Regions from separate parts of the Homo sapiens genome. Here regions 1, 2, 3 and 5 are each linked to region 4. The links come from fine-mapping of genetic effects on gene expression. A gene starts in region 4. Each other region holds a variant in brackets. All regions are shown on one strand. Distances are from middle to middle.

Region 1 (6,383 bases), 270 kb before region 4:
GTCTCCTCAAAGGTAGCATTTGAAAACTAAAAAGTTTACCATGTTTGTTTTTTTGCCAAAAAGCAAGAAGTAAACAAATAAAGATCAAACTTCAAAGTGGGGAAAGATATACTCCTGTCCATCCTCCCCCATTCATTTCAAGTACTAATTCATCCTGAATTTCAAATGTACTTTTCTCTGAAAAGCTATGCTAAATACTCTGTAGCAAACTTTTGTATAGAACATGGATATAAACATAGAACTTTCGAGTGGAAAGAGACTCCAGAGATCATCTAAGATTGGTTCCCCATGCGGGGAGGAGCTTCTAGCCCACCTTGCCCTTTCCTGCTCTTTAGAGTAGTGCCCAGATGGTTTAAGTGATTTGCTCAAGGTCAAGCATCAGAATCAACACTCAGGCCTCCTCACACATCATGCTACTTCCTCCAAAAATTACTTCTCCCCTCTGCTCCCCACTTCCACCTCTGCCCAAAAAAGGAGGAAAGAGAGAAGATCCATAAAGTCATAATGAATGATATCCAAAACATGCGTTAAATAAATAGACACCTTTCTGGTATGTGCCGCATGCCTCAATATGCATCCAGCTGTAGGATGATCACGTCTAAATAAGCCCAAGAGAAGTTTTGAAGTTCCCAGAATGAGAAAGTGTTTGCCCTCTTGTTTTAGTGGGTTTCAGTTTATTACTATCTAGTAATGCCGGATGGTGTCAGAAAGCACCCAACTCAGGCAGCATATCACAATACGAAATCTATTCTATGAAACAGAAATGTGGTAATAATTTTCAAAACATCAAAGTCTCTCTCTCTGAGTACACGAGATCCTTAAAACATTAAGAACACAATCCTTTGCCCCCTCTCCCTGTATTTCCTGTTAATTTCTTACTCTGAAATATTAACTGTTTCTAAGACAACTCAATCAAGAAGTCTTCATCATCGCCCCCTCACTACTGAAGCATATCATCTAAAAAATTAATTCAAGAACATAAAAGTCTTAAAGATAGCACCGGATTAATTAGCACGTGGAACAACAGAATGTCAACATGCTCAAGCAAATGCACAATTGCTGTTAACCTTCACTGAAATAATAGGGGAAAGGCTATAACTACTTTTGAGGATCATCATCTATTACTTTTAAAAGCTGCAGTATATTCTTAATAATAAATGGAACAGCACAATCATTCACTTTTCATACAACACACAGTTTTCCAGTCATTTACAATTCACCAGTTACACTCAAAAATCGCCCCCCCAACCCCCCAACCAACCACCACACCATCACTTCCACCTTTTATGAAAAGACAACAGTTTTAAGCCATTTAAAAAACAGAGAGAGAGAATCCTGGCAGAAAATAATACACAGCTGTGATAATATCGTGTTATTTTAAAATACCATAATATAGTTTTACTTTTAATAATAAAAGATAAAAAAGGAGCGTCTGTGAATAATTAGAGATTGCAGTCTGAAGCCGGTTACAGTCACTGCAATTGATAATAAACTGAAAACCCCTTGAGAGCAGGTAAATGCTTTGCAACCCTGACCCCCTCGCTCTCACATTACTTAACTACCCTTCGGTTCTTGCATTACATCACCATTCAAGCGATTGGTTCCTGCATTTTAACTCTCTCCCTGTCTCCTCCGATTAGGAGCGACACCGCAGCAAAGAAACTTCGCCCGAGTTTGCTCTTTCTCGCTTCGCTCTTTATTTGTGGCCCTTTTGCTCTGGTTGCTTTGGTTTGCTCTGCTTTTTTTTTTTTTTCTTTTTTCCTCCAACCCGGCCTCTGTTCAACTCATTCAGGTCTCTGTGCTAGAACAAAAACTCTGATCGAAGTGAAAAGAAATGCCTCTTCGGGCAAGAAGAGGAGCGGAGGGGCTGGGGAAAGAGGAGAAGGAAGAAGAGGAGAAACAAAGACGGGCAGAAAGGGAGAAGGGGGAGAAAATGAAGAGGAGGAGGAGGAGGACGAAGGCTCAAAAACAGAAGGCAGTAGGGGCAAAAAAAATCTATAAAATCAGGAGAAAAGAAAATAAAATTAAAAACAAACCTCATGGACATCACTGAGGCTGAATTCCCTCCTGAGGTGCAGAACATGAGAGCTCTGGAATGAGTGTGTGTAGAATTTGAGCCAAAGCTTAACTAGCTTGAGTGAGTCATATCCTTCCCATTTGATTCCAGGCCAAGCGATGATGTAATGTGCTGGCCCTTCTTTTGCGCCTAGCTCTGGCTCTCCCTCCGGCTGGGCTCTCGCTCACTTGCTCTCTTTCTCCTGGTCTCGCCCTCCTCCCCCTTCTCCTTTTTAGCTCAGTGCTAGTGAAGTCACCACTTAAATCTGGCAGAACTGAAGCAAAAACTTCAATGTAACCAAAACAGCCCCAGGCTGAGTTCCAGGCTCGGAGAGCCTTCGTGGTGCACTTGCCCTTAGAAACGGGTAAACAAAGGGGGAAACAGTGCCGCTGGGGATGGCCCTACAGCTGCCATCAGAGAGCTCCAAGAGGGACCCGGAGTTCTGCAGGCAGGGGTCAGCTGGTTCTGCTGGAAACAAAAAAAAAATACTGGTTAAAAAAAAAAAAAAAAAAGAGTGCCCTGTGTTTGGAGAAAGGGAAATAACATCAAGACACGTGTAGAGATGGGGAAGCAGGGAGTGAAAGATGGCAGGTTGGAAGGTCTGAGTGTGAAAAACTAACCTCAGTTAGCAGCTTGGGCTTTGGTTCAGAACCAGGTGACAGGGTTTCCATCGCCCAGGGCCCTTTTTTCCTGGAGCTGGATGGGATTTTCTGTTGCTGAATGCCAACCACCAGCCCTCCGGAGACTTCTCGCATCTGACCTCCCTGTCAGCGAGGGCAAAACCACTTCTGGTCCAAACACGTGCCCGTGTCTGGAGCCACCAAGGGCTGTGAAATCACAGTCACTTCTCCCTTGGCCCCTATGGGTCACCCTGTCAGGTGCTAAAGGAAAAAGACCCCAGCCACAAAACACAAAACTTGCCTTTCTGAGATTAGCACTCCACCCTCAGGTGAACCTTCCAAAGGAGAGGGAAGGAAGACAAGTTCTCCCTTAAAATGAAAGACAGGCTGTGCCCCCACAACTCAACTCGCTGGAGGGGGTGCTGGTGTGGGTGGGGCCGTCTGTGACTTTAAAGAGGAGAACAGACAGTATGTGTGTCTCTTTTTTAATTACAGAGTGAGGAAAAACAGCCTGGGGAGGTGGGGGCAGTCAAGCATGATCCTTCACAAATGACAGTGAAGCCTTTTTAATGGCTGAATTCTACCCCTCACTTCACACCTCCCCACTCAGGGCTCCACCACGACAATGACAACAGTCCAGACACTACTCTATTAGCAGGGCTTTTTAACCCCATCATCTCTCCGTTTTGCTATTTCTCCCCACACTTCATGTTTCCTTCAAAAAGAAAAAAGTAACATGAAAATGGGAAGTTCGCTAGAATTTTTTTTAAATACCACAAAAGCAGAAGAAAGGCATGAAG[C/A]TGCAATTTTTTTTTCCTTTTCCAAAAATGACCATGGCTTGTGCTACAGTCTATTGCCCCTAATGCCTTTTGTGGCCAATGAATCAGGTAGATAAGACAAACATTGTCTCTGCACGTTGCAAAGCACAGAGGATCTTGACTTCTAAACTGTGTTTTTGGAGAAATCTCTCAGCTTATTAAAGACGTCCACTGATGGAGGTCAGGGATATTCATCTGAATCCCCTGGAATTTAAATCACAGCTTCAGGGAGTGTTGCCGTACTCAGGGTGAAGAGTTAAAAAGCAATATTTGCCCAAGGGTCTCCAGGACCCTGGGGGTTGGGGTGGGGAAGTGCTTTCTCCAGCAAGCTGCCCTTTGGCTTGACATCCTCAATTGATGCTGATGCCACAGTAGCTCCGAGTGACACCTTTATCAAGGCAGGCAGCTCTGAATTAGAGGTGATCAGCCATAATTACAGCTGGCGCCACTGAAGCCTGTGGCCTGACAGCGGCAAATGTGGTTGTTATAAAGTTTGGTCCACCATGTCAGTGGCCTGTATAACTCATTTACGTCTGACTTGCCAAGCAGACATTGATTTTTCTTCTGCTAAGGGGAATAAATAAAACAAAATTTTCAATAACTTCTACAAGCCTTTACACTTCAAGGCAGGTTGGCAAGATTTTGCATAAGCTACTTTTTCCTTTTTAAATGAGCCATTGACCATCTTGGTTAATATCAAGCTATGGACTTTCACTTTCCCTTCCCTACCCCCCAAATCTCCCCTCCCCACTTTAGTTTTCTTATTTAAATGTTTTATTTATGTTACTATTTTTGGTGCAAAATGGATATGTGGTAGAGTTTTCCAAATTTACATCTTTTTGTAAGCTCAATGGGAAAATGTTCTCTGTAGGATTTTCCTTATACCACATTAGAGGGCCGGGGTGAATCCACTAGATACCAGGCTTCTGCTGTTTTTCAGTGACATAGGCAAAAGGGACCCTGTGCTTTAAATAGAGGTGATGTAAAGATGGCTTTCCTGTGCCTTGCTTGGGAAGTAACAAAGGAGATGATAGCTTCAGCCAATGCCGGGCACGGATCTCAGATGAGACCCGCCAGCATCATTGCTTCTGCCAGGAGGAGTAAGAGAACAAGAGGTTTGAAGGTGGCCAGTGTGCCTCTGATCAGGGAGTGACATCGCCAATGGGTACAGTGTTTCTAAAACCCAGACAAATGCCAAGGACCCAGAAATGTCTGGGTCTGATGATGACGCCGTTAAGCCACCAACGTGCCAGAACACTTCGACATCCCAATAAAACAACTTTGGAGTGCTGGCCTGAATTGAAATCAATTTCAGAGTTCAAAGGTCTGCATATTTACATTTGCACTTGTTGTTCGGGACATAACTATTCCCTCCTGCCCCTTCCAAATCAGGCATTCCACTGGCTGCTGGGTGCCTCCCCACTTGAAAAGAAGCCCTACTTTCCCATTTTCCTTCCTGTGAGCAGCTAAAGAGAGACAAGATCCTGTTCCCAAAAAGAAATGCCCCTCTGACTCAAGAGATTCCTTTTTCACCCATTTGGCCTTCTCCCCTACCCCATGTCCTAGCTGCTCCTCTGAAGAAGGGGGGCTTCGTAGATAGAAGTCATAAGATGCTGTAATTCCAGAGGGAGGCTTCTTAGAAGTAGCCCCCGGCCAACAGGCTAGGTCTCCAGATTAGCTGGCTTGCTCAGGAATGCTTACAACACCCTCCTTTGCAGAGCGTGTCATCCTTGGGGAGAGGGTGGTGGGTACCGCGCAGCTGTTCGGTGTAACTCACTCACACACTCCCAGCCCCTGATGAAATGTTCGGCTCCGAAGAAGTGGAAACCTTTGAGATTTGAGCTCAGAGTTCAGAATGCTTTTGGACTCTTTCCAAATAACCCAATAGAAAAGGCACAACTTGGATTGCAGGGATGGAGGGGCTCAACAGCCAACTAGAGTAGACCTTTTGTGTGCCTGGGTGAATTTCTGAGCTCAAACACGTTATGAGAAACATAGCAAATATGAGAAACAATGGAGATCCTTCCTAGAGAGAGCTGGGGTTTCCCCCCCCCCCCACTTTTAGGTTTGAATTTATTCTCCTCAAGGAAAAGTATATCATCTTCTTTCAAATGTTGTTTTTAAAATTTAACCCAAGATTTCTACAGTCCCGGTGGAGTTTGAGGGGCCAGATAATTTCAGAGTTAAATAAGCTGTAATGACTATCACATGTACCCAGCCATAAACCTAGTATTAAAAATTATTCAGAAAAAAGTGGCATCTCTTCCTTTTTTAATTTACAATAACCATCCAGGTGGTTTTCTAAGTCCTCCTTTGCAAATTGCTTCCAGTGAACCCTCTGGTCACAGACCACTGCACACCCACATGGTGTCATTCAGCATTCCCTTCGACCTGGGTGTCCCGTGTTTTCACAGTGGACAGAGGATGAGGGGCCGCCTAGGTGACCTGGTGCAGCATGCATCCTGAACCATGTGCAGGCAGGATTCACTGGCTTAAATTGTCAGCCCTGCTGAAGTCAGCTCCAGGTGCTCCCAGAGAGAAGACAAGGGAGTGATCTGCCCTTGGTGACTCCTGTCGTGTAACTACTGCACCTCCTATACCCCAACCCTGGCACTAAGTACCCTTAGGCAATTCACTGGCCTTTCCTGTGTCAAAACCTATTTGTAATTCACGGATGTGGCAATGCTGAATGTGTCTCAAACAAAGGAATGAATTTATAATGGTGGAGGCATCAGGAAACCTTTGGGGGTGGATATTAAGAGGTCACAAGAGCCATTTGATTAGCCCTAAAATATTGTCATCAATTCTGCTTCCTATAGTGTTTTTTCTCTAACTTCTTAAAATGTGCAAGTCATTGTACCACTTAAACCTAAACCAATGTCTGAAAGA
Region 2 (6,383 bases), 260 kb before region 4:
GCAGTGGCATGATTTCAGTTCACTGTAGCCTTGACCTCCTGGGCTCAAATGATTCCCCCACCTCGGCCTTCTGAGTAGCTGGAACTACAGGTGTGCACCACCATGCTTGGCTAATTTTGTTTACATTTTGTAGAGACAAAGTCTCCCTATGTTGCCTGGGCTGGTCTTGAACTCTTGGACCCAAGTGATCTTCCCAGCTTGGCCTTCCAAAGTGCTGGGATTACAGGTGTGAGCCATAGTGCTCGGCCAAGGAGGTCCAAACTTTTGTGGGTAAAAGTTTATACGGGATTGGAGCCTAATGATGTTGTCAGACTAACTACACTGATTCATGTTCTGGTGTTGAGTGGAGCCAAGACAAGGCATAGTAGCTGATCAAGACTGGCTCAGAGCAGTTATGCTTGGGAGAGGTGGACAACCCAACTGATGATGTCCAAGAAAGAGGCCTTTCCTGGAGGCTCTGTGGGGAACCTTGGTTAAAGGAGATTATCAACCAAATTCCTACTTTCCCCTTTGACCAAGGGTGGTGACTGGACCAGTCCAGGTTGAAGCAAGTGAGGTGCCTAGGGTGCAAAATTTAAGGAGGTACTCACTCTCAGGTGCAGGTCTGCAATTGTCCAACCCTGAGAATAATTGCCCCCTTAAATGTTGAGCCATAGGGGGCTCATTTGTGCCCCTTAGTCCCAGCCTCGTTTGGAGATAATTTTCTACTCTGTGTACTCATGAGCATGGGTAGGGTTAGTAGAAAAATATCAGGTGAAGCTCTGGGCCTGCCTGGCTCTTTGGGGAGATGGAGAATGATGCCTGCAACAGACTAGACTCTTCCTTAGTGTCAGCTTTCATCAGCCTTTCCTTCTTCTCAATTAGCCACTGTGAGCTGAGAGCTGAACTAAAAGTTGTCTGATACCAAAGTTGGGAATGCGACCATTCGCTGTTTTGTACTGATACACTAACACCTTTTATAATCCAGGTGTTCCTCATGACCTGGGTTAATCCATGTGTCCAGAAGCAAGCACTGTTACCGGCCCTGGAATCAGGAGAGGCAATGTGGGAAGACAACCATCTTAGGAACATCATGATTCTGACCAGGAAGATTTTCCAAGGGATGAGGGTTGGAGTAGAGGCAGAGAAGAACAGAGCATTTTTGTGGCATAACATCAAAAAGTAAGAAATGTAGAAGGCCACTTCCCTCGGGTCCTAAGAAGGCCTTACACTGCTCACCTGGTCTTCGTCCCCTCCCTTTTACACCCTGAAATCTCATCAGGGCCCACACTCTGAGCCAAACTTGCAAAGTAAATGCCTGCCTCTTTCCTGGAACCCCTAAGCCACTGGTTTCCAAGGCTGCCCTGGTGGGTCTCCCCATTTCACAGAGAGGAAAACTTGGGGCTGCCAGAAGCTGACCATCATTTGCTGAGAATTTTTATCTGGAAAAGCAGTTCATGGGGACTTTCATAATCAGTGGAAAAATGTTGTCCCTTTGCACATGATAAGTTCAAAACACTGCAGTATCTGCTTTCTGAATATTCTCCCTCTGTCTCCCCTCAGCACTTTGCAATTCCACATAAAGGCCCTCAGAAAAGGATTACTTACGTATCTGCAGGATAACCCTGAAAATATACTCCGCTGGCTGTTTTCATTGTTAAAACATGCTTAAATGAAAAAAAAAAAAAAAAAGAACTACAAAAGTAAAAATGAGTTTGAAGAGGTTTTGAAGGTATTAGAAATAAAAAGGCAAGCTTAAACTAAGGAATTGTATTTGTGGTTTCATTTCTTTCCACAAGGATTCCAGCTGTAGAGCTCTGTGTCTATCTAATAACTGACCTTCTCTTACACTGAGCAGAGAAGTTCACCAGCACTGATTTATTAAGAGGGTTTCTGCAAGGAGAATTCGCCCTCCAACACTTTTGCCCGGAGGGGATGAGAAGAATTTTTTTTAAACCCCAAACATGAAGCTCTTGGGTCTTCCAAATGAAATTATCTATGTTTTTATTAACTGGGCCCCTGAGTTAAAAAGTTGGTTTTGATAAGGGTGAATAAATGAAAGAGAAAACTGCTGACATAATATTTTGGTTTCCAAACCCACTTCCACATTCTACTGTCCCTCTCAGGCCCATACATGACTGTGGTTTCTCTATTTACACCAGAATCCTGGAGAGAAAGGTGCAGTTAATCCTGCTTTATGGTAAAATTCATCTCTAAACTTTAATAAAATGATCATAGTGACTCTTTTAAATGCTTTGGTATAAGTTTTGATTTTTCTAGACATGGAGTACTATATGATTTATAAATAATGCAGGCTTGTATTTTCCTTTTATTTTTATTTTTATTTTTATTTTTTTTGAGCAGAGTCTCACTCTGTCGCCCAGGCTGGAGTGTAGTGGTGCCGTCTTGGCTCACTGCAACCTCCACCTCCGGGGTTCAAGCAATTCTCCCACCTCAGCCTCCCAAGTGCCTGGGGCTACAGGCGCACACCACCACACCCAGCTAATTTTTGCATTCTTAGTAGGGACGGGGTTTCACCATGTGGGCCAGGCTGGTCTTGAACTCCTGACCTCAAGTAATCCACCCGCCTTGGCCTCCCAAAGTTCTGGGATTACAGGCGTGAGCCACTGCACCCAGCCTCTTTTCCATTCTTACAAGAGGAAAAGTAGATATTATGATGTCCAAGGTGTTCTATAGATTTAGGAGTAAAAAGATTCTAAATTTCTTATTTCTTACAAAGTTGAAAATTCTTCCTTTATTAATAGAAATGGGAAGGAAAGTGAGATTCATGCACTGTCTGGGCCAATCCCAGTGCCCTTTCTTTCTCTCTCTCTTTCTCTCTTTCTTTCATTTTTAGAGATGGGGTCTCACTGCATTGCCCAGGCTGGAGTGAAGTGGCTGTTCACAGGCACAATCATAGCTCTCTGTAGCCTCAAACTCCTGAGCTCAAGTTATATTCCCACGTCAGCCTCCCACGTAGCTGGAACTACAGTACAGGTATGTGCCACCACACTCGGCCAATTCCTTTCTTTTAGCACCCACCCAAACTGGAAAGCATGCATTTAAGCTGGTGTTAGAATATACTTTTCTTGGGCAATAATCCTCCTTGAAAAATCTAATGAACACTCTGACTCCTCCTTTTAACCATGGACCCCAGGTTAAAAACCCCCAAGAGAAAAAGTATGCTCACTTTGTATTAAACTTCAAGCTATGCTCTTTTACAGGTAAAGAAAAGCAGGCACGAAGACATGAATCTCAATCCCTTGAAGGCTGACCCTTGGCCTGGCACTCCAACCAGCAAACATCAGTCAGTGGTTCTCAGATGTGGTGT[G/A]CCTGAGAATGTCTGGGGAATAGATTAAAACGTAGGTCTCCAGGTATTACCTTGGAGATTATATAGGTCAAGGTGGGGCCTTATTTCTGTGGTGCTATGACAGAATATGTATTTTTAAGCAAAACTCCCCAGAGATTTTGATGCTAGTGATCCATAGTCCACACTTCTACGTGGTCATCCTATGGTCATGGAAATTTTATAAATAAATTAATTAAGTTGATAACGTAAATGAAAAAAATATATAAATACATTCATATGTCTCTGCTGTCCATGCTCTAAAGGAGCTGTGATTTCCTTTCCCCTCTTCTATTTTAAGATAAAAAGTATTTAGTAATCTGTCCTAAAGTGATCAAGCCTTTAGACATTGGCTATAGTGACTTTTCCAAAACAGGATGCCCACAATGGATGGAAAGAAAACATCTGTGTTCACAGTAACATAACACCCATCTGAACAGTCTATGGCATTATGGTCTCCAGGACCCATGATAAGATTAGGGTTTCCTGACCTGTGGCTAGTTTTGCAAGACATTTCTCTTCTATGTTTACTATCAACATTTCCAGATGTTTATTTTGCAATATTCCTAGTCTCCTAAAGTGACAATCATGAGGAGGGTACGCTGGGATGGGGGAAGGGATACCAGTGGTAACGGAGAAGTCTATTGCAAGGTACCCATCTACCACGACTCTGGCATACCTTGATTATTTTCTTGAACTTTAGTTACACATCAACAGTGGCCTCTGGATACTAATGATTGCACAGAGTTTCCTTCTCTGGGGATCTTCACCCATCACTCTCCCAAAAGGATGTTATCAATGTTTTTCAAAAGTCTTGAATTTGTAGGCTTGTAAAGAGCTACAGCACTTGAGAGGAGAAAGGGCCAGTCTATCCACAGACCCAAAAACACGAGTGACCCAGGAAGGAGAATGAGGATCGCGACCTGTGAGTCATCAAGGGCTGCATCTCCTGCTAAGTGGAAATTAAGTGTCTGAATTACAATGAGACTCCTTACATAATTTCTATTTGACCAACTCTTTGTCATATTAATACTGTCATAGCGCCACAGAAGCAGCCACGGAGACAGACAGCACACACACAAGCCCAGGGAATAGACAAAATGAAAAACCTTGATAGGTGCCGAATGTCTGGGAAAATAGTAACAGTAATAATGCAATAATCTGTGTGTAGATTTGGAGGAAGAGGCAGTGAACCTGAAAAATAATGATAGTTATGATGAAAGCAAAGAGGCCTCCTAACTAGTTCTTTGGTCATGTACTATCTTCTAGCCTAGGGCCACCAAGCCTATTTCATCCTGACCCTTGCTGGAGATTTTTATACCCCCTTACTCAGAGGAGCTTTGTGTTGACAGAAGAGACTCTCCAAGACATGGAGAATGAAGAGATAGTGATTGTTAGGAATGACACAAATATCTGAAGGAATTAGCTTTGGGGCAGTAATCCTCTTTAAAATTCTAGAGACTTTCAGAAATAAATAAGCTATAAATGCCTGTAACTCGCCCTTTCCATTTGGTAAAAATGTCCTTGGTGTTGACTTCTTATAGGCGAACCCAGAGTCTTCCTCATCTCAACTCTGCATTGCCAGAGCAATGCACCTTATCCCAAGCTGAAACAGGATCTCCCATATGAGCACCTTATCCCAAGCTGAAACAGGATCCACACTGCACCACTTTGCAAGGGTAGGTGGTTTTGAGTCTAGAAGGCCCCATAACTCAGTCTGAGGCAGTTCCGTCTTAATTTGTCAAAGTTTCTGTTATTTTAACAAAGGCTATTTGGTGTTACTTGATCCCTCCTGGCCTGGCCAAACCTCAGCACAATTGAGATCCTTTTGTTTCTCTCTCGTCTCCCCTTTCACTACCTCTCTCTGCATTTCCTGATACCCTCTTAATCCTCACTGGTTTCAAGTCATCTCACAAAAGACTTTAGCTGAGGAAGACAAATTTTCCTTATTTCATATACTGATAACGCAGGGAAAACCAAAGTCATAAGTTCTGAAGGTGGGCTCTGAAACACCAGGACAAAAGATGCTGGGGGCTGTGTTTTGTACAAGGATGCTGTTGAGTTCTTGGCTCTATTTCAGAGACACAGAAGGAAACAAAACAAACGAGATGCCAGACCTCAGGGAACCAGCATTCTAATGGGTCGAAAGAGATAATCAACACGTAAACAGCAAATACTCTTACTTTAGATCGTGATAATGGCTACAAAGAAAATAAAACATGGTGATGAGAGGGAGCATTGGATGTGGTGAAGACTCTTAGATCAAATATTTAGGCAACTCCCCTCCAAAGAGATGACATTTTACCTGAGGATTGATTAGTGAGAAGGAGCCACATATGGCTACAGGGAAGAGGTATACAGAGAGAACCACCTAGATAAATGCCCTAAGGCAGGAAGGAAATTGGTGTGTTTCATGCAGGAAAAGAAAGAAGACCTTGGAGGGAAGGAGAAAGAGAGGGAAAAGCGGTAACCTGGGAGAGGTAGGTGGAGTATTGCAAGTCACTACAGAGTTTCTATTTTAATTGGTGAGAAAAAGCCACTGGAAAGTCTAAAGAAGGGACTAGCATAATCTGATTTTTATTTTAAGAAAATTGCATTAATTGCTGTGTGGAGAACAGACTGTCAGAGGGAAAGAATTCGAGATTGGACAACAGGTAAGATATTTTGCAATAGTCTGGATGAGTAGTGATACAGGCTTGTGCCAACTGTGGTGAAGACGACTGTGATCACATGTGGTTTGAAAACGTCCAGAGTTTTGTTTTGGACATACAGGCAGAGGAATCAGGAGAACAGAGGGACAGGAACATCTGAGCTCAGCAGGTTGGTCTGCGCTGAAGACATCCAATGGGAATCAATTCTGATTGACTTTCTTTAAGGCCATAGGCAGTGTAAATCTCAGAAATGAGTCATGCAGGATACTCTCACAGTAAGAGGTGGGCAGAGAAGGATTAGCCAGCGACCTGGGAGGAAAACCAGGAAGTGGACAGGAAAGAGTCCTGGAAGCCAATGTCAGTACAACAGTCACTTCAGATGACTCCAAAGTACACATTTGTTAGAC
Region 3 (6,383 bases), 120 kb before region 4:
GTAAACAGTAGTAGATATTATTAGTAAAGGCACTAATGCTATCAAAAATGTTAATTTAGGATTGATGACCGGCTCTTGCCTGGAATGCCAGAGGTAAACCTGATTCAGTAGGTGATTCCACAAGCCCCAGGCTGGCCAGGCCAGTACAGTGCTGCCTCGTGAAGCTGCCAAACCCTAATGCAAGGAAGTTCAGGTCTGAGCTGGGTCAGGCTTGAAAACAGCAGAGACAGAGTTCCTACCACTAGGAGAATCACTGAGCTTCAGAGCTGGAAGGGAGCGCTGCAGTTGGCAAGCAGGCAGCAAGGACAACATTCCAAGGAGATGCGCCTTACCTCATGATAGAGTGGGAGAAAAGAAACAGACAGACTCTGAGAGGGGATCAGGAAACACAGGTGCAATGTTAGACGGCTCTGCGAAGTCCAAGGCACGCTTTTCCCACTGTTCTTTTGAGACTATTCTATGACTTTGAAATAGAAAGAGAAAACTAAACAGCATCCCCCTTCGTGTACCTTATAGGCTCAAGGTGCTTTTTGAACATTGTTTGCTGGTTTCTCAGCAGACATAGGCAGACAGCGTGTTTTCTCTGCAACATAGATGGGGAAATCAAGACACTCTATGAGGAGTGACTTGTGACAATAAATACTTCAGCAGGCACAAGAAAGACCCAGGGTCTCTGAGGGACCCATTTACAGCTCTGGGCTCAGAATTATGATTTGACCTGATGTGTTTTAATTAAGTTGTAACACAGTTTTCTCTTTTTTTCATTTTCCGTCCTTTTAGATTGGAAACCTGAAGAACATAACCAAGTTCTACCATGTAGGCTTTTGGTGGGACAGAAGTTAGCACAGCCCAACCAAGGAGAAAAAAAGGAGTGCAATAGAAATGGTTAGCCTAGGAGGGCAGAAAGAACCTTTCCTAGAAAATTCATGCTCACCACATCAATAGTATTCTTTTCTCCCTTTCTTCCTTCTTTTCTCCTTTCCATTACTTCTCTTCCTTTTTCCTTCCTTCCTTCTTGCCCTTTCTCTTTTCTCTTCCTTCCTTCCCTTCTCTTTTTCCTTCCTCCCTCTTTCTCTCCTATACAAATTAATTTGTATAACCACTACATAAATATTTGTTAAGATGATATAGTGTCTGAAAATCCAGGGTTTTTAAACAAGCATAAGTGAAGGAAAGTAAGGTAAATGAAAGAGGAAGTCGAGATGAAGAGAAGGAAATATTATGAGACTTCTACTCCCATTTTTTCCTTCCTTCTCTCCTTCCTTCCCTGCCTCCCTCTCTTCTTCCTTCTTTCCTTCCCTCCTCCTCCCTTCCTCCCTTCCACCTTTCCTCCCTTCCATCCTTCCCTCCTTCTTTCCTTCCCTCCCTCCCTCCCTCCTTTCACTTTTCCTAAAGAAATTGGTTTAACCACAGAGGACTATTTGCAGCCAGTAGAGGAAAAACCTCTACTATGTAATCCACAAGTATGAATGTTCCTGCAAAAAGACTTGAGTCTGTTACCAAATTGGGCCCGACCTAGCCTTCCTTGTAAGGCTGCCTTCGTGTGACCACACTGGGCCTTAAAGAGCCGGTGTAGATGGGGTGACCATGGGACAGCAAAGGGGCCACAATATCCCATTGCCTAATTCACCAGGACCAGCAGGAACCAGAGATGCGAGCTGCAGTCCGCAAGCCCTCAGGTAAGAAACACATGGCCAAGGATGAGTACATTTCTAAATATAAATAAATAACTGGGAGGTGATACGGGACATCAGGGCCTTGAGAACTCAGACTCCAGAGTCAAACTATTAGGTTCAAACCTGGGCTTTCTCACTTAGAAGGCCTGTTACCCTGAGAAAGTCACTTTATCCCTCTGGGCCTGTTTTCTGGTCTCCAAAATGGGGACATAATAGCGTGTACCTCATAGGGTTATTGTGAGGATTACAAAAATTAATTTCTATAAGCACTACATAAATATTTGTTAAGATGATGATGCAGATGGTGTCTGAAAATCCAGGGTTTTTAAACAAGCATAAGTGAAGGAAAGTAAGGTAAATGAAAGAGGAAGTCGAGATGAAGAGAAGGAAATATTATCTGAGACTCCTGTTTGAAAATTCTCATGTTTGGAGAAAAGTGGCTGCAGAAGAAGTGCCCTGTTACACTGGGATGCTGGCTGGAATTGTCATCTTGCTCAGTAATAACTCTGAGAGGCCCCACGATTACAGGAGGGATTGCCTCAATTGCTACATAGCTTACAAGATGTTTTCCCTTCAGCCTAAGGCAAGGGGTCCACCCAGCCCTTCTCCTCCACTGGGAGAGGGAGGGGCTGAGCTGGAGAGGGCTCGCGGGGGAGGACGCAGGGTGGGCTGAGACACAGAGGCCAGAGCATCTATTGCCCTTCCTAGAAGGCAGGGCCTCCTCATCCTACTCAATAAAGACTTCCTTGTTTTTCAGCACACAGAGTAATCTCTGAAAGACTGCACTCCAATTTGAAAATGAGCCAAGAGCCAGTGGGAAATTCTCCAGCAAATTGCACAGGGAGACAATAATACGAAGGGCAAGTGGATCAAAGCGTCCTTATTTTTTTCTTCTGGAAATTCCTATTCCTGAGGCCTGAGGCCCTGTGGGTCTGAGACTCTTCCCCCCAGTGTTGTCAGGATCATAGTGTTCACAAAATAGATACAGATTTGCTTTTCCAGGGTTGGGATGACAGGATCTAGGTTCTCAGAACATAACTGAAAATCAACTCATGTCAAAAGTAAATGTTGGAGTCCTGCATATGCCCTGTCATTCTGACTCATGTTTACACTTGGTTTTTATTTCAAAAAAAGATGTTAAGCCAGCCTATGTAGCACCATTTAGGAGAAGAGGAGGAAGAAGAGGAGGACAAGGATGATTCCCCTCAAGAGCTCTGACTTGGGATGGGAACCTCACAATATATTCAGGTTTGGTTGCTGTATCAAGAAGTAAAAGAATTTCAAGCTCCTTTAAAACAGAAGAGGAGGCAGCCTCTGCCCAATACAGGACTGAGCTCATTGAAAACTTCTCAGAGGACATGATGTAAAATGGAGAGCTCAAAAACCCGTAAAAATAACCCTTAGCCTTTTAGAAATTATAAGTGGGGAACTTAGTTCTTACCCAGTAGAATTTTAAAATGCTATGTCCTTCCGGAAATCCTGTGGTGCTTTCTGAAATGACTTACTGACAGTATGACTGAAGTCAGTGTCTCCATGCAAAGTGCAGGTACGCACGACAGGAAAGGACAGCAACTGTGCGGGGACAGGTATGGTCACCAGAGTGTCCATGTGTCTTATGGCCCGGAACAAGTTATGCGGTCTCGCCATCCCTTCTGTCACTGGGGACAATTACTTTTTTTCCCTAAAGTTTATGATGTCCACATGTTTATAAAGGTTAAGGGAGGTAGATTTAAAAAGTCTGGTCTTGCTTCGTTACACAAGCTTTGACTTCCCGTTTCCTTAAAGGCTGGCTCTTTCTTTTTTTCTTTTTGAGATGGAGTCTTGCTCTGTTGCCCAGGCTGGAGTGCAATGGTACGATATCGGCTCACTGCTACCTCCGCCTTCCAGTGTGCACCACCACACCCGGCTAATTTTTGTATTTTCAGTAGAGACAGGGTTTCACCATCATGGTCAGGCTGGTCTTGAACTCCTGACCTCATGATCCAAGCCTGGCTCTTTCAACAAGCATCCTATGTCTCTAACTGTGGGACATTTTATGTCATAAGTGGATCTTCCCACTCCTGTGTTCTCACATCTTATTATGTGCTAAACACAGTTCTAAGTTATT[T/C]CCCACAGTAACTCTTGTCTAAGGGGTTGGTGCTATTACTGTTATCCCATTTGACAGATGAGAACACTTAGGGTGAGAGGTATAGTAACTTCCTATGATTACATAGCTGGCAAAAGCTGGGATACAAACATAGATCTTTTGGCTTGGAATTCTGTGCTCTTACCACTATGTTATCCTGCTGATCAAATGAACAAAGTTCTTGCTTTAGCCTAATGTGTTTGTAGTTGTAGTAAATAAAATATACCAATTTTCAATTACTTTGTTAGTTCCTTTTTCTCCATTTCCTTAAAAAACAAAAACAAACAAACAAACAAAGAAAACCTTCCGATCCACGAGACCCGAGGCACTGTTGGTCTGGGACTCTTTCCCTCTGAAGTTGTCACGATGACACTGTTCACAAAGTAGAGGCAGATTTGCTTTTCCAGGGTTGGGGTGCCAGGAGCTGTATTAGATCTCTGGATAACAATTTTGCAATGCAGCTGCTGCATAACAAATTACCACAAAATTTCGTGGCTTAAAACAACATTTATTATCTCACGGTTTCTCTATGTCAGGAATTCAGCAGCAGCTTAGCTGGATGGTCCTGGCTCAGGCACTCTTATGAGGTTGCAGTCAAGATATCAGCCAGGGCTATATTCATCTGAAGGTTTGACCGGGACTGGAGGATCTGCTTCCAAGATGAGTCTCTCCTATAGCTGTTTGGCAGGGGGCTTCAGCTCCTGGCCACGTGGACCTCTCCACAGGGCTGCTTGAGTGTCCTCATAGCATGGCTCTGGCTTCCCCAACCCCTACAGAACCCTGTTTCACAAATGTTGGTGTCTTGCGTTGAAGTAATAATTTTCCACTGACAAAGTTTTAGCCTCAGTTTTTATTTATTTTTTGAGACGGAGTCTTGCTCCGTTGCCAGGCTGGAGTGCAGTGGCACAATCTCAGCTCACTGCAACCTCCGCCTCCTGGGTTCAAACGATTCTCCTACCTCAGCCTCCCGAGTAGCTGGGAGTACAGGTGCGTGCCACCACACCCGGCTAATTTTTTGTATTTTAATAGAGACAGGGTTTCACCATGTTAGCCAGGATGGTCTCGATCTCCTGACCTCGTGATCTGCCCACCTCAGCCTCCCTAAGTGCTGGGATTACAGGCGTGAGCCCCCACGCCCGGCTAGCCTCAGTTTTTAGTTAGGGTCTCCATACCCCTCTCTGTTGGCCTGGTTTCAGAATTCCTATGTAAAGTAAAAGTTTAATGAGTCTATGAGATGGTGTTACGTGTTGCATTGTATCCCTCCTTTTCAAATTCATATATTGATGTTCTAATCCCCAGGACCTCAGAATGTGACCTTGTTTGGCAACAGGGTCATCACAGATGTAATTAGTTAAGATGAGGTCATTCCGGAGGAGGGTAGGCTCCCAATCTATCATGAGTGGTGTCCTTATGAAAAGGGGAAATGTGGACACAGACACACACAGGATGAACACCATATGAACATGAAGGTGGAGACTGGAGTGATGCATCTACAAGTAACACCAGAGATGGCCAGCAAAACACTCGAAGCCAGGAGGGAGGCTTGGAGCAGTGCCTCCTTCAAAGCTCTCAGAAGAAATCAGCCTTGCCAACACCTTGATCTCGGACTTCAAGCATCCAGAGCTGTGAGGCAACACATTTCTGTTGTTCTAAGCCACCCAGTCTAGGGTACTTTATTACCGAAGCCATGGGGAATTAAGAGATGAAAAGAAAAAAAAACCTAGAGACCAAGAGACTATATAAGACAAGCAGGCCTGGTTACTTTGCACCCATGGATTGACCATGGGGCTTTCCCCAAAACATTATATTGTGCCTCTTCCCCGCCACCCACTGGGAAAAAAAAACAACATTTGACCTTCAAAAAGCACATTCCCCAGTAAAACTGGCAAAAACTCAGAATAGACAGTCAAGGTTTCCTGATCTCACCCAAGAAAATGGAAATTTTATTACATTCCACGACCACAAGGTTTTTCCTAAGCTCATTAAGCATATTTTTCCCGCAGAAGATCTTGTCTTAATAAGGCCACCACTATCCCTTTCCTCTGGCCTCCATCATCAGCCAGGATAAAAGGCAGGACTGCGGGTGGAGATGAGTGGGGACTCTAGAGAGTTCCAGCACTGCTTGTTTATTTTGAGACACACTTGCGCTTCTACTTGGGCCATCACAACTGTGGTCAAAGGACTCGGAATCTGAAGAACACAAACAAAGCTAACTATGGCGAAAAGCCAGGGTAAAGTTTTCTTCAGCAGCGTAGAGGGAGGGCCATTTTGCATAGCCTTTTATATGATAATCGCAGCTCCTTCATCTGTATTGAACTTTGCAGCAAGAAGGAAAAATAAATAAGGCTGACTAATGGCTTGTTTCCCCAAAGGCAGCTTTTTATGGGATCATATGTTTTTTCAGCTTTTCAGTCACAGTTTCCTGCCTGGACATTAGGAGCCCTTGACATTGGCTATGGCTTCGTGCACCCTGGACGACAGCCCAAGCTGCCCCTGAGCAGCTCGACTAGGGTCCAGCTGGACCACGGCCCCTTCCTAGGTCTCAGTGATGGTGAACCTTGTTCCCTTTGATAAGCTGCACA
Region 4 (6,383 bases):
GTAGTAGAGAAAGTCACTGCCTTGTTCTTGAGACAGTCTTTCAGACCATTTTTAGTCCTGCCTGGTTTTTACTCTCAAATGAAATCTGGATGGTGTGGTTTTACAGGGTATGTCTCATAACAATGATGAAAAAAGGAGAATTTAAGTTAAAATTAATTAAGGAGGCCCTTATTAGAAAAAATAACATTGCAGATATTATATAAGAATGAATGAAATAGAAACTACAGTTTTTATGATTAAGGTGTTCATTCCAAAGATCTGATAAAAATTTGTCTTTGAAAGATTAGTCATCAAAAGGCTTGAAAAGAGTGAAGGATACAAAGTCATAGGTTATGCCCCATTCCTGACAAGGGCATTTATGGCAGGAGCACCCGACCTGGAGGCAGGGACCAGGCTTCTCAGCCTGGTTTGGCTCTCTCTAGCTCTGGGCCTTGGGTGAGCCAGGGGTCTCTTCTGTAAAATGAAAAATTGGTCTATCAATCCGAGGCCCTCCCCTAGCCCTACCATCCGTGTAAAGCCATAAGCCTTTGTAACTCACCATCAGAATCTCTAGGCCTAAAAGAACTCCCTCTAAAATCAGTTCTAGTCAAACGCCAGCCTGGTAGTTTTCAATCCTTGTTAAGGATTGAAATCCTAAAATCTTTTTAGGGTTAAGATCAGAAATGTAACCTTAAGGAAATAGAAGAAAGCAGCTGAAATACATATTTTTAAAGTGATAAACTGATTCTGATCTATTTCTCAGGGGGTGAGGGGGAAGGCAATACAGTGAACTTGGAAAAAAGAAATATTGAAATGTCAATATAATATCTTTTATGGGTTCAAGAATTTATCCTAAACTTTATCTTTTACTGTGACAGTCCCAGAGTCCTCAATAAGAGCTTCAAAAATTTTAGTGGGGTTTCTGGAAGAGTGCTATCACTATCTGGAAATTTCTAAAAGGCTTCTCTCTTTTTATAAAAAAAAAAATTCCTATGTTAAATCTATGATTTGTGATTCTCAACAATGGAATACTAATGGATACTCAAAAAACACTAATTGCTCATTTTTTTCCTAATTACGAAATGTAATAATTCTTTAGTGAAAACATTAAACATGATGTCATTTTTAAAGTGCCAGACTTTGTATTTAAAGCATTGCCACAAAATAGATAGCTTACTTATTTTACAAATAGCAACACAAAAAGGGTCTTCTGTGTCTTTAAGTCTGTTTAGCATATCTGAAAGTGCTTCTTCCTCACACTTAGATATTTAAGGCAATTGCCCCCCAGTTTATTACCTTATCTCAATTGTATAATTTTCTTAAATAGAATTCAGAGAAATAGTCATAGATTTAAATTTTTAAACACTAATTAAGCATTGGTTGATTCCCATAATACAGCTGGTAGTCAAAGTGGACAAGATAATGAATTGACTGAGATCACTGTTCCATCTTCATCCAAGAAAGCTGCCTCTAAAAAAAAAAAAGACCTTAAATTGCTGTAGAAATCCAATTTGTAAGAAGCAAAAGAAGCATATAGATGGGAAACACCAGCCAGGATCACATTAATTTTGTGACTAACTGCATTGCTTAGAAGAAGAAGAAGGAGAAGGAGAAGGAGAAGAAAGAAAAGATGACAAAAATAATAAGTCCACTCAAATCCCAATTTTAATCCAACAACATAACCAGAAGAAAATGAACTACAAATACAAAGTTCACATCTTAGTGATCTAGTGAACACTACACACCGACAAAATAATTTTTAGCTTAGTAAGAAGTAAACTCCAATGACAAGAAAATATTATAGGATTGTGATACCTCATTGCTAAAAAGTAGATTATAGTAAGAAATTGGGAGTCTAGGAACTTGCCATCATGGAAACTCCATGATTGATTGGTTTTGAATGTGCAGGTGTGGGAAACTGACAAATCATTGTAACAAAAATCTTAAACTTACTAGAATTGAAAATCTATGCAGGAAAAGTCTCTGTGACAAACTACCATTCATTTAGCCACCTATTCAAATAAAAGCTGTGACATAACAGAGATCTAGAAATAAGGGCATGGTTTCCAATTTTTTGTTGGAATGTTCTAATAAACTATCTTCTCAGGTATCAACTATATAAGGTCACGACTGACCGCTAATTGACAGGCAATTTATCGGCACCAGCAATTTACATTAAAAATAGTGGGCTTGGAGATATTTTCAAATATGTTTACTATGAGTTAAGTTGAAAAATAAAAACCACTATAATCAGTAAGGATTTAAAAATAAGAGATCCATATAAAATGCTATAAGCAAAGGAAAATGAGAAACATTTCTGGGGAGACACAAGTGAGTTTTATTATACTTCTTCTTTTAAGTTTTAGAACTAAAGTAATAGTTGATATTCAACCCATAGAATCATCCTTCAGGGGCATACACATCTAGGTTTGAATGCGGAAAACTGTTTTATTGTTTTTTTTTAATTTTTAGGTTTCTTTTTCAAGAACTTTCTTATTAAAACTTAAATACTTATTGAAGTGATTCATGAAACCTCACAGAAAGGGGAATTCATGCTTGACACATTACTTAACATGCTCCATAGCTTCCCCACTGTAGTTCATATGCTTCTGAACATATTTTACCTGGGAAATAATAGTCTTATTCACACACACACACACACACACACACACACACACATCCTTCCACATAAAATGCTATAAGTCCCAGGAAACTGACAAAAGCAACATTAAAATTTTGTGCAAAATCTAAACTCCATTTCTGAATTCCATCTATGAAAATACAACATTGGTTCTATTTAACTAAGTGCAAAGTTTTCTCTCTGTTTAATATGCATAATAAACATCATCCTTACCATTATCTGTAGAATAAAAGCAGCAACGTGTTGCTTCCTGCAGTCACCAAATCAAGTTTTTTCTTCCTTTCTTTCTAGTAACTTCTGTTTCACCAGCAAGATTAGGAAGAAAATAAGTCTTGAGTATTTGCCTCAGTATTTCAGACCAGAAGATAGTGAAACTAGCTTTTAGTAAAAAGAACAGGTCTGGTATTTTACAATTACTTCTGCAACCCAGAGGTACCTCCTAGACTCTGGTACCTCCCTCGTTCTCTAAGTTTCTTTTAGTAATGAGACTAATTTTTCCAGTAGTCTTGAACTCCCTAGATTTAACTGACATGGAAAATGTGACTAAAAATTTGTGGAACTGTCTAGCCTCCAACCCTACACAGAATCAACTTTGTTGTAAATGTTGAAGAACACCTCGCAAGCAGCTACATGCTCAGTTTATACTCCTGCGCTACGCAGCAGAGAACACCAAATAACAGTGCGCCATCTAGTTAGCAAGCTGCAATCTCCATGCTAGAAGGGGGGACACTTTCAAACCCTGGGAGTTAAGAACTTGTCAGGGTTCAGCTGCTCTAAAGGTCCAATTGTTTGTTTAAATAAAAAAAAATATCGCTACTGAGATAATCCACATCTAGTGGATATGGGAAAATTTAGGTTATAATGGCACTACAAACTTTTACATCTAACTTTGATTTACAAGATAAAAGCAAGTTTTAAATTAAAAGGGCTTTCTGTTAATAGAGCTTATTATTCTGAAGACGGGAATGATTTTCTTCGAAAGTTGTCCCTGGGTGCATGCCTATTATCTTTGCTTTTCCCCTTCCACTAATGAGCATTTATCTAAAGAGCCTGTTAATCCTCTGATGTGTGCTTCTGGTCAGAGGTAACAGTTTGAATAAAACCACTAATCACTGATCACTAAATCACTGATCATTAATCACACTTTCCAGTGCCCATGACTGGGCCATTTTTTTTCCTTTAAGTCTATGCATCACAAACAAGAAGTTCAACATTTTCGATGCACATATATTGTGTGGAGGTTACACTATTTCATCTCTAGATGTGAATAAATACTAAATCCTGCCACAGACTTGGGGAAGGATGTCAATTAGACCCCAGACAGGAGTTTCACAAATGCCTACCCTACAGCATGGCTTTCGCTTTGAAGAAAGTAGATCTAATTATAAGAAAACATGTGTTCTTCAAGAAATTCCCACATATTTGCAATATAAACTTTTCTTTATTTAGTTTTCACCAACTCCAAATCAGGGACCACTCCAATCCCCTCTCTCCCTCTATCCAAAACTCTGTTAATACTTTTTTAAATTTAATTTCTGCTGCACACCTCCCTCACGCCCCCACCCCCCCACCCCCCACACCGAGGGTTCTTTTTACTTTGATCCCTTGCAACAAGTCATACACAGGGTCTTTATTTCAACTGCCAGATACGGAGGTTCTGACTCAGTTCAATGACTTACGTATTCGACTTCCTCTTTCAACATAGAAACTTAAGGTTAAGAGCTAGAAACTAACGCACGCAGCAATTTATTGTATGGAAGTTTAGGTTCAACGACTCACATTCCCTCACTTTGGAAATGAAACGTTTAGTCTTGATCCTTTCAGCTAAACCTGATTTTGTCAGCATCCCTCTTCTGCTAAAGGGCAGGCACTACGTAAAGTGAAATACTTTGTTTGCAGTGGGTGTATTGCTTTCCTAAGTCACCACCACGAGGACAGAGTATTATCATAACGCTTGCAAACATTTCCTGATTTGCCTTTTCTATCAGGACTAAGCATTTTCGCCCTAGAGGAGAAGGCTTACTGGTGCCTTTCTTAAATAATACAAAAGGGCGGATTGCGCGCTGATCAGGTACAGTGGTCCCCTCAGACCCCAGAAGCTTTTACCCACACTCCAGGGACCGTGCTCGCCCCAGGGAAAGCTGTAAAAAGGCGGGGGCGGGGCTAGAGTGATAACGGTGTAGACGGGGGAGTGGTGGAGAGGGAGGGGCTGGGAAGAGAGGGCAATAAAGATGCCCAGGGAGCCGGCGATTGCACGAGTGTGTTGTGGGGAGGGTAGGGGGATGCAAAGCAGAGTTGCTTTGTCAGCATTCTAAGCTCCTGAACCCTTGAGGAGCTCAAGCCGTTAATCAAACACTTACTGGCCTGCAGAATGACGTAATGGACCTGTATCCAGTCTTTATTCCTTGACACATGTCAGAGAAGGAGGGAAAAATAAAAATCAAACACATTCTGCAGACTGACAACGAAATATACAAGTAGCCCGCTCCAGTCCCCGGCCTTGAGCAAGCATCAAGTGGGGGCGGCACCGGTCCAGGGAAAGTTGGGGATGGGGGTGAGAGTGTGGACAAGGTCTAGGGCTTTATCTACCAGACGCCCCTTAAAAATAAATCTATGGCAAAGAAGAAGCGGGATGCAGCTGCTGAGAGAAAACATCTCCTTGGTTCCTTCCTTCGCATCTTGCCCCTCTAAGAACTTCGTGAAAAGTTCAAGTGATTCTGCCGAGAATCTGCCGCAGGGGGAGACTCCGCCGCCAGGTCTTGGGAATTGCCTGGGCGCCGCCAAAGCTCGAGCCGGAGCTGTCATTTGGGGCAGCGGCCGGGAAGAGGTAACGATGCCAGCAAGAAAGCAGCGGAGGCAGGAGGCGGCCGGAGGAGTGGACTGGAGCGGACGGAGCCTCGCCGCTCTCCAGCCCGGAGCGCCTGGAGCGAAAGCCAAGCGCCCTCCGAGGGCGACCTCCCCTCCCCGGGCGCGCGCCCACCCGCTGCAGCCGGCAGCCCGGCGGGAGAGGTGGCAGCTGCAGCTCCGCACCGGGGAGAGCGAGCCCCCTGCGCGCGCGCCCACCCGCCCCCTAGGTGACCCGGCGTCCTCGCCGCGCCCGCTGGAAGTTTGCAAACTTTCTCCGGGGGTTCCGCCGCCACGCTGGGAAGCTGGGGACGCGGGGGGAGGTTCCTGGCTCGCCGTCTCCGCTGCCGCTTGACCGCACTTCTGGAGGGCTCCGCACCTTGCCAGGTCTCTGGAGGCAAACACACACCCCCGATTCATAACTGGTCCCCGCGTCAGGGGACTCGCGCGCTCCCACACACGCACGCACGCCGGGCGGACTCGGCGCCGGCTCCACGTTAGCATCCCTCCAGGCGCGCGGCGCGGCGGCCACCGAGCGCTCCGGCACTCACGCGGCGCGGGGTCTCTAGGGTGGCCTCAGGACACAGCCGAATTCCACAGTCTACCAGCACTCGGGGCCGGACTTCCCTCTGGTCCGCCAAAATGTTTACAAACACAGATCACCCTCCAGAAAAAAATGCATCGCATCTTCCCTACTCCTTGCCCTGTGACCTGCCCACTGGACCAAGTAACCTCGCGGCTGCTGCCGAGAACCAACCCCTGCAAACAAGTACACTCCCGAGATGGCTCCTGCGGCAAGTGCAACAAAAGTGGCTAAATGCAAAAGCCCCAGAAGTGGCCGAGCCGTATTTTTAGGAACTTACCAAACAAGTGTGGAGAAGGCAAGAGCGGAGCCCGGGTGAAGGGACCACGTTGGACT
Region 5 (6,383 bases), 97 kb after region 4:
TGAAGTGCCACAGATAGAATGTCAGTCCAGAATCAAAATCTATTGAGTAGATGATATTTGGGAGGACTTTTCTGGTACTTTTTGTTTTTCTTCCCCACATAATTATTTCCAGGTGTTATATTATCAATCTACAGAAGCCTAAGCAATTTGATTTTGATGAGCCTTGAAATTCTTCCTCTTCAATGTAGCAGCATAGGATGCTGTATTTACGATGATATTCTGTGCCTCTTCTAAGAGTCTAGTATTTCATTCTGTAGAACTAGATGCAGGACATTTTAGGCACGATCCCTGAACCAGGAACTGGTTCTGTCTCTCAGTCTCTTTCAGCCTGAACATGCCTCCTGGGTCAAGCCATGTGGTCCAACTCCTGTCTCAGGCAACCCTGAGAGTGAGGCATTGTAGCAGAGAAGGGAGGCTCTATAGAGAATCAGTGATGTTGGAAATATGTGTATTGTTAGTCATACTTTTTCTAAAATGAATAATACATTTTCAATTTAACCCACCAATGCCTCAAGGCATGCAGTAAACATATTTTGAAACTTAGAAAATAATTTTGTATACTTTTACAAGTAGCACCTATTCATTTTTGCAGCACACTTTTGTCTTGCATGGATATTCCTAGAACATCTGCATCTTATTTGCTGAGGCATCATTATTGCCGCCTGTTCTTGGAACCAATACATTGCAGATTGGCTACGTCAATAATACAACATTCATGTATCAAATTGAACAGCCCTCTGTGGTAATCTGAACTGAGGGAATGAGCTTAATATCATAGGATTTGTAGAAGAAACATAGGCTGTGGTAGATTGGAATGTCAGAATCATTCCAAACTTAAAATTCTAGGAATAAATACTAGGAATGTCTGGCAGGTTTTAAAATCAGATAACTTCATATATTTGGAAAACAATTGGCTAGAAATATAAGAATTTATTGGAAATTTGGGAATATTGTTTTGGTATTACTGGCAAATTTCAGAAGTGTATTTGGAAATTTCTTTAAAGGACTTAAAGAGCTTTAAATAGATTCAAGAGCCATCTTTCTCTGCTGATAGTTGACCAATGTTTCAAATACTGAATGGCCATCTACTCTATGGTACAATTACACTGCAGTCATTCCATACAGAACTCAACAAATAGAGACAGTGTCCTTCTCCTAAGGTGCTTAGAGCTGAAATGAAGAGATTAGCCTGACATGTACGGAACAATAATATAAAACACACTGTACATTATTATTGAAAAATATTTACTGATGTTTACCAATGTGCAGTGCACTGTGCTAATTACATAGATTACCTAATTTAATTCTCTCAACACAATGAAGGAAGAAGATAAATAGGAATCAAACAAGTAAATGAATATGCCCCAAATTACATAATTGTAGATTGTGAAGCTGAGCTTTAAGCCACGTCTGTCTGAATAAATGCAAATCCATTGCTTTTAGCTCCTGTGTTCTTTTGCCTCTTGATGCCTATACCACAGCGTCAACTATTGCTGCCTTAGAAATTCAGAGATGAGGAAGTCAAGGCTATTAGGAAGATGCCTCTTCCCCTGCCCACTCAAAGTGTGTTTTGAACTTTGAAGTTTATGGGATACCCCAGGTGGAATGAAGGAAAAACTGCCTGTTTGCTCTTTGTCACGTGGTAAACAACAGCCAGAAATCCACCTCTGATTCAAAGGTTTTCACTGCTGGTGCCCACCCTGGTTTCACACTGATGAAGAGTTCTCTGCATTACACTTTCCTGGGGTAATCTGAACCCTCCTTTTCTGTGTGAGATGTCAGTTTACACCATGCAACAGGGAGAAACTGAAACTGAACCAGAAATATGGGCAGCAGAATGCAAAAAATCATCAGATAAATACTGCCAGGGAGGAGATGGGATGGGTCTCCTTTTGTATTTCTGCCAAGTACCTATGTGGGCGTCAGTTCTATAAGTATCAAGTATGCCAGCCAGAGAAGACAACCATTAAATCAAGACTTACCTTCAGAATGAAAATCTTACATTTTATGGTAGGCGAAGTCATATTTATTGTTGACCCAACAGTGTATCTGCTCTTTCAACAATCTTCAAGACAAGTATTATCATCCCCCTTTTAAAGGTTAGGATATGGAGGCTTGGAGAAGCCACAGGAACCCAGCTGCCATGTACCATATACATTCTGCACTGTGAATCAGTGAGGAGATTTTGAAAGTATTCTGAAATGTAACCACAGTTAGAGCTGTTGACTCAATCATGCTGTACTAAGCAGTAGAATTTTCAGCTAGAAAATAGGATGTAACTCTGCCAGTTATACACTAAGAAAAATGAAATGCCCTAGTTGAGTAAATCTCTGAAACCACACACTGGGGACTTCCTGGGCCTTGTTGCTCAGGCTTTTGGCAGGAGCGATACGAGATGCCCAATGGATGGCAGACACTGCCAGGATCTGGCGGTGCATTTCTGCAGCATTCACTGACTCCTAACAAAGACAATATTTAGTTCCCAAGCTCCCTATCCTGATTGATTTGTCTCTTTCTTTTTTTCCTCTCTCCTTTTTGCTCCCAATTTAAATTATAAACTATTTATTACTGACACATCCTTTTTTTCTGGCCCAGCAGTGTCCCCGGGCCAGCTTTTTGGCTCAGGTTTTCCCAGGCATTGTCAGGCATTTCCCTGGCTCCAATGACTCCAATGTTTGTCTGCAAGTGCTCCAGGCAGATGTCTGAAAATCACCCACTGACAGATTTACGTTCATCAACCTCTGCAACACCCTCCACCCCCAGCCCAAACCATATCATACTTGTGGGTGAAAGCACTTGAAGGCCAAGTTCACCAAGTCCTCTCAAGCACATGCAAAACTAAGCCAC[A/G]GAATCGCAATGGCATCCCACCCGCCTCCTCGGCAATGCACATTTCCCCGGCCTGTTTTCTACTCAAGATCTGGAACAACTTGGGTCTCCAGGTTTTTGAAACAAGATTAAAAGGTCTCTTTTACAGCACTTGCCGAAAAACTCCCCGGAGGAAATGTGGTTGGCAGGTAAAAAAAACCAGGACCTGTCTCCTTGAAAATCACAGCTGTGTTATCTTTTTCCTCCACTGATCACTTCCAGATTATCACCAGGGCAGCCAGCCAGTGAGCCAGTCCTCCGTGTCCCAGAGCCCGACTCTGGCAATAGCTCATTTCCCCACAGAAGGGAACACATTGGAAGATATATAGCTGGGTGATGTGCAGAGCCCAGGGAGGAAGAACTTGTTAATGAGTGTGACTTTGCCACCGAGGCAAGTCCACACAGGAAGGTGAATTAAGAGCTGGTGCAGCAGGACGTTTTCCAACGCGTCGGGACGAGGTCAAACACAAAAGAACCCTTTCTGGGAGGAAAGAAGATTGAAACTGTAGGGAAAAACAAAATGAAAACACACCCCATGTGAACCTCACAATGATGAAATCTGTTGTTGGAGAACAGAGTCCTTCATTCAGTGTCTCCTGTCTGCTTTTGCAGAACAAGTTTTCTGCAGCACCCGGCTGGAAGCGTCTTCTTGTCCAGAGTTCTCTGGCACCTGCCCATTGCTCAGGTCCAACCAAGAGAAGCGGCTAACAGAAGGCAACCTCAGCTTCGGACAACTGCTGCAAACAGAGTCATCATAGTGACTTTTTCCGAAAAAATAAAATTGTCAAATCAGGACCCTGGCTGGTCAGAAGTCTGTTTTTAACAAAATTCATTAAACTGGCAACATAGTAGGAATGCCAGCTTATGTGGGAAGGATTTGTGCTGTAGTCCCTGTTGGTGGTGACAATACAAATGAATTGTGCCCACAGGAAGTCGTTGCCTTGGCAAGAATCATCAGGAAATTGACATATACATTGAGCCATTTATTCACCCAGCGTCTGTTCCATACCTTGTATAGGCTGGGACCACACTAAACACCAAGGATAAGATAAGATACCCTTATCTCCTACTGACTTCAAGGGCTTGGATTAGCAGCTCCCAAACAGTGCTTTGAGGCATACCAGTCTTGAGGCAGGAAAATATGTTCCTGTCACTGGAATATGGTTAGAAAAATGCTACATTAAACAAAGTTGAACAGTTTTCTCTACTGTTAGGCTTTCTACAGCCTTCAACACGCTGATGTGCCCATTGGCAGCAGTTGCCAAATTTACTGACCGTACAGCACTTTTCTACAACATACTTCTGAAGGTCAAATTGCACACCGGTGATCCAGTTGGGGAAGAACTGTCTCAGTAAAGCGTCTCAGTAAAGAGACACTGGGGACCTGGAGCAAGATTCCCCTTCAGGAAGTGCCCTTCTGGTTTTCTTTCCCTTGGGGTAGTGTGTCGCTGCTCACTAAGCCTTACCCCAAAGTATATGAACTATGATACTGGCATGTCTTGGTCATCAGACACTGTGCTGTGTGTGTTGTCTGTATCTTCACATTATATATCACAATAATCTGTGTGGCAGATGTTACTCTCCTGGTTTTGACCAGACAATGAAAATGAAGCTCAGAGATACTGAAGAACACAAAGCCATCGTGCTTTCAAGCTCCATAGGACTAAGATTCATGCCCTATAATCAGCAGCAAGAAATCAACCATTTTAACTTGGAGCAAGTGATGAAGATGGATGATAAAGACAGCACCATCTCCAAGGAAAAAGTAATGAATGTTCTAATACTTGAATTTCCAGCCTTTGAATGTAGGAGGGCACTGTCATCTCATCTTGAAGTGTTTTCCTAAAACATGTCTGGTTTAACAGGACTGTTGTGCTTTTAATCATTAATTAAGCTTTTTCACCAAACCTGCACAAAACAATCTCCATGATCTTTCTTCACATAGCTACAAGAAACATCAGGATCGCTGCACTTCAAAGGCAGTGAATACCTGCTTTTTCCTTGGAAACATAGATATGTTTCCTTAAAAATGAGACCCTGGCCAAAGCTCCACTAGAAAAATCAGCCCTTAATAATTCTCTTATTCTTTTCTGAAACATTCTGCAAACTTTTATGGGGGTTGCTTTGGCATGGCCAATATTTTTTCAGTGGTGTCAATGTTTTATGCTTACCTATTTCTATTAAAATTATATATTTTTGCAGCTCCCAATAAAACTCATTGTATGGTATGCTAGAATAAATCTCAAAATCTCCCTGAAGTGCTAGAAACTTTCAGATATATGTCTATTAAATTTTTATTTCTTCAGCAAGTGGCGTGTGTGCCAAAATATGCATTTCGTTGCTGAAATGGTCACAAGTCCACAAAGCTGTGTTAAAACCGTGAAGGGGTATTGAGTTGTCCATCACTAGAAATCTACATCCATTGAGTGAGGAGTGGTTTTTCAGTGGTTATTCCCACCTTCCACAGAAATCCCTGAACTGGTTGTTCACCTGTACATCTCCCATCCCCGAAACACACTGGGCACTCAAAATACATTTGCTCAATTGAAGTTGTTTTCCCAGGAATAGATCAGATTCTTTCCTCCTTAGAATGGCTTGAGGTTTTTGCCATAGTATCAGACTGCCAATACAGTCAGGTTGTCTTTTATCCTTAGGACAGTGAATCACAGACCAAAAGTAATAAAAATACTTTCTGTTAAAACTATGATGAATAAAATTTAACTCTACTGTCAAAAGGGCAAGACAAACAGCCTATAGGTAAAAGGGATAGGAAAACAGGTTTCAGGTTCATATGAGAAGGAACTTTCCATCAGATTAAGTGTGTTCGTGCTTCAGGCTCTCGGAAGATGGCATGAGCAGGCTCATGAAGCAGGAAGTTCTCTGACACTAGAGGTATTCAAGCACCATCTAGATCAGTGGTTCTCAAACAGTGGTGCCCAGACGAGCAGTATCAATAACAGCTGCGTACATACTAGAAATGAAATTTCTCAAGACCCGTCCCAGACCTACTAATTCAGAAACTCTGGGATTGAGGTTCAGCACTCTCAGTTTTAGTAACTCCAATGTCTGCTGGAGCTTGAGAAACACCGACCTAAACTACCACTGGTCAAGAATACTGCAGGGAGCATTCAACCATCAGATAGGAGATTGAACTGGATGGCCATTCAATTCTGTAATTTCACAAGTCTCATAAGGTTCTTTGGTCTGCATTATTTTCTTTTTGGAATGAGAAACTGATGCTCTACCAACACTCAGGCTTGACCACTGGCAACACTATGAGTTATGGAAAGAGAACTGGAATACATTACTGCAATTGTTATAAACTCTGACATTAGAATGGCCCGAGGAGCTTTAAAATAAAACAAAATACCAATACCTGGGACTAATTTCTGGAGATGACACCTGGACCTACCTTTACCAGGCACTTTCACGTTAATTATCTCATTTAGTCTCCATAACAACCTTATGAGATGGGTATTATTACCATCCCCATGTTTACAGATGAAAAAGCCTCAAAA

Direction of the effects. Alleles are on the strand shown, and positions count from the first base shown. SD is a standard deviation of normalised expression in the study named. Not every link is listed here.
For the expression in tibial nerve of the gene that starts at base 3,233 in region 4, allele C in region 3 goes with a higher level than allele T (moderate effect, 0.47 SD a copy in GTEx).
For the expression in fibroblasts of the gene that starts at base 3,233 in region 4, A is the low allele of the variant in region 5 and G is the other (moderate effect, 0.59 SD a copy in GTEx).

Evidence for each region.
Region 1: its variant is fine-mapped to the expression of CREB5 in whole blood (TOPMed, PIP above 0.99). The same link has a PIP of 0.9 or more in blood mononuclear cells, monocytes, monocytes after interferon gamma and neutrophils.
Region 2: its variant is fine-mapped to the expression of CREB5 in whole blood (INTERVAL, PIP 0.94).
Region 3: its variant is fine-mapped to the expression of CREB5 in tibial nerve (GTEx, PIP 0.99).
Region 5: its variant is fine-mapped to the expression of CREB5 in fibroblasts (GTEx, PIP above 0.99).

The regions. Positions count from the first base shown.
Region 1 is chr7:28,681,851-28,688,233 of GRCh38, reverse strand. The region is part of intron 5 of CREB5 (cAMP responsive element binding protein 5); the gene reads right to left. Among named protein-coding and RNA genes, the nearest start is that of CREB5, 270 kb to the right of the region's middle. RefSeq lists enhancers at 2,307-2,815, 3,032-3,081 and a silencer at 2,754-2,923. The variant C/A (reference allele first, on the strand shown) is at 3,477.
Region 2 is chr7:28,674,341-28,680,723 of GRCh38, reverse strand. The region is part of intron 5 of CREB5 (cAMP responsive element binding protein 5); the gene reads right to left. Among named protein-coding and RNA genes, the nearest start is that of CREB5, 270 kb to the right of the region's middle. The variant G/A (reference allele first, on the strand shown) is at 3,311.
Region 3 is chr7:28,530,309-28,536,691 of GRCh38, reverse strand. The region is part of intron 4 of CREB5 (cAMP responsive element binding protein 5); the gene reads right to left. Among named protein-coding and RNA genes, the nearest start is that of CREB5, 120 kb to the right of the region's middle. The variant T/C (reference allele first, on the strand shown) is at 3,784.
Region 4 is chr7:28,409,368-28,415,750 of GRCh38, reverse strand. CREB5 (cAMP responsive element binding protein 5) reads right to left here and starts at 3,233. Exons shown (of 11, transcript NM_182898.4): 1 at 2,834-3,233. The coding sequence starts at 2,836. RefSeq lists an enhancer at 3,147-3,236.
Region 5 is chr7:28,312,598-28,318,980 of GRCh38, reverse strand. It overlaps a transcript of CREB5 not described here. Among named protein-coding and RNA genes, the nearest start is that of CREB5, 97 kb to the left of the region's middle. The variant A/G (reference allele first, on the strand shown) is at 2,848.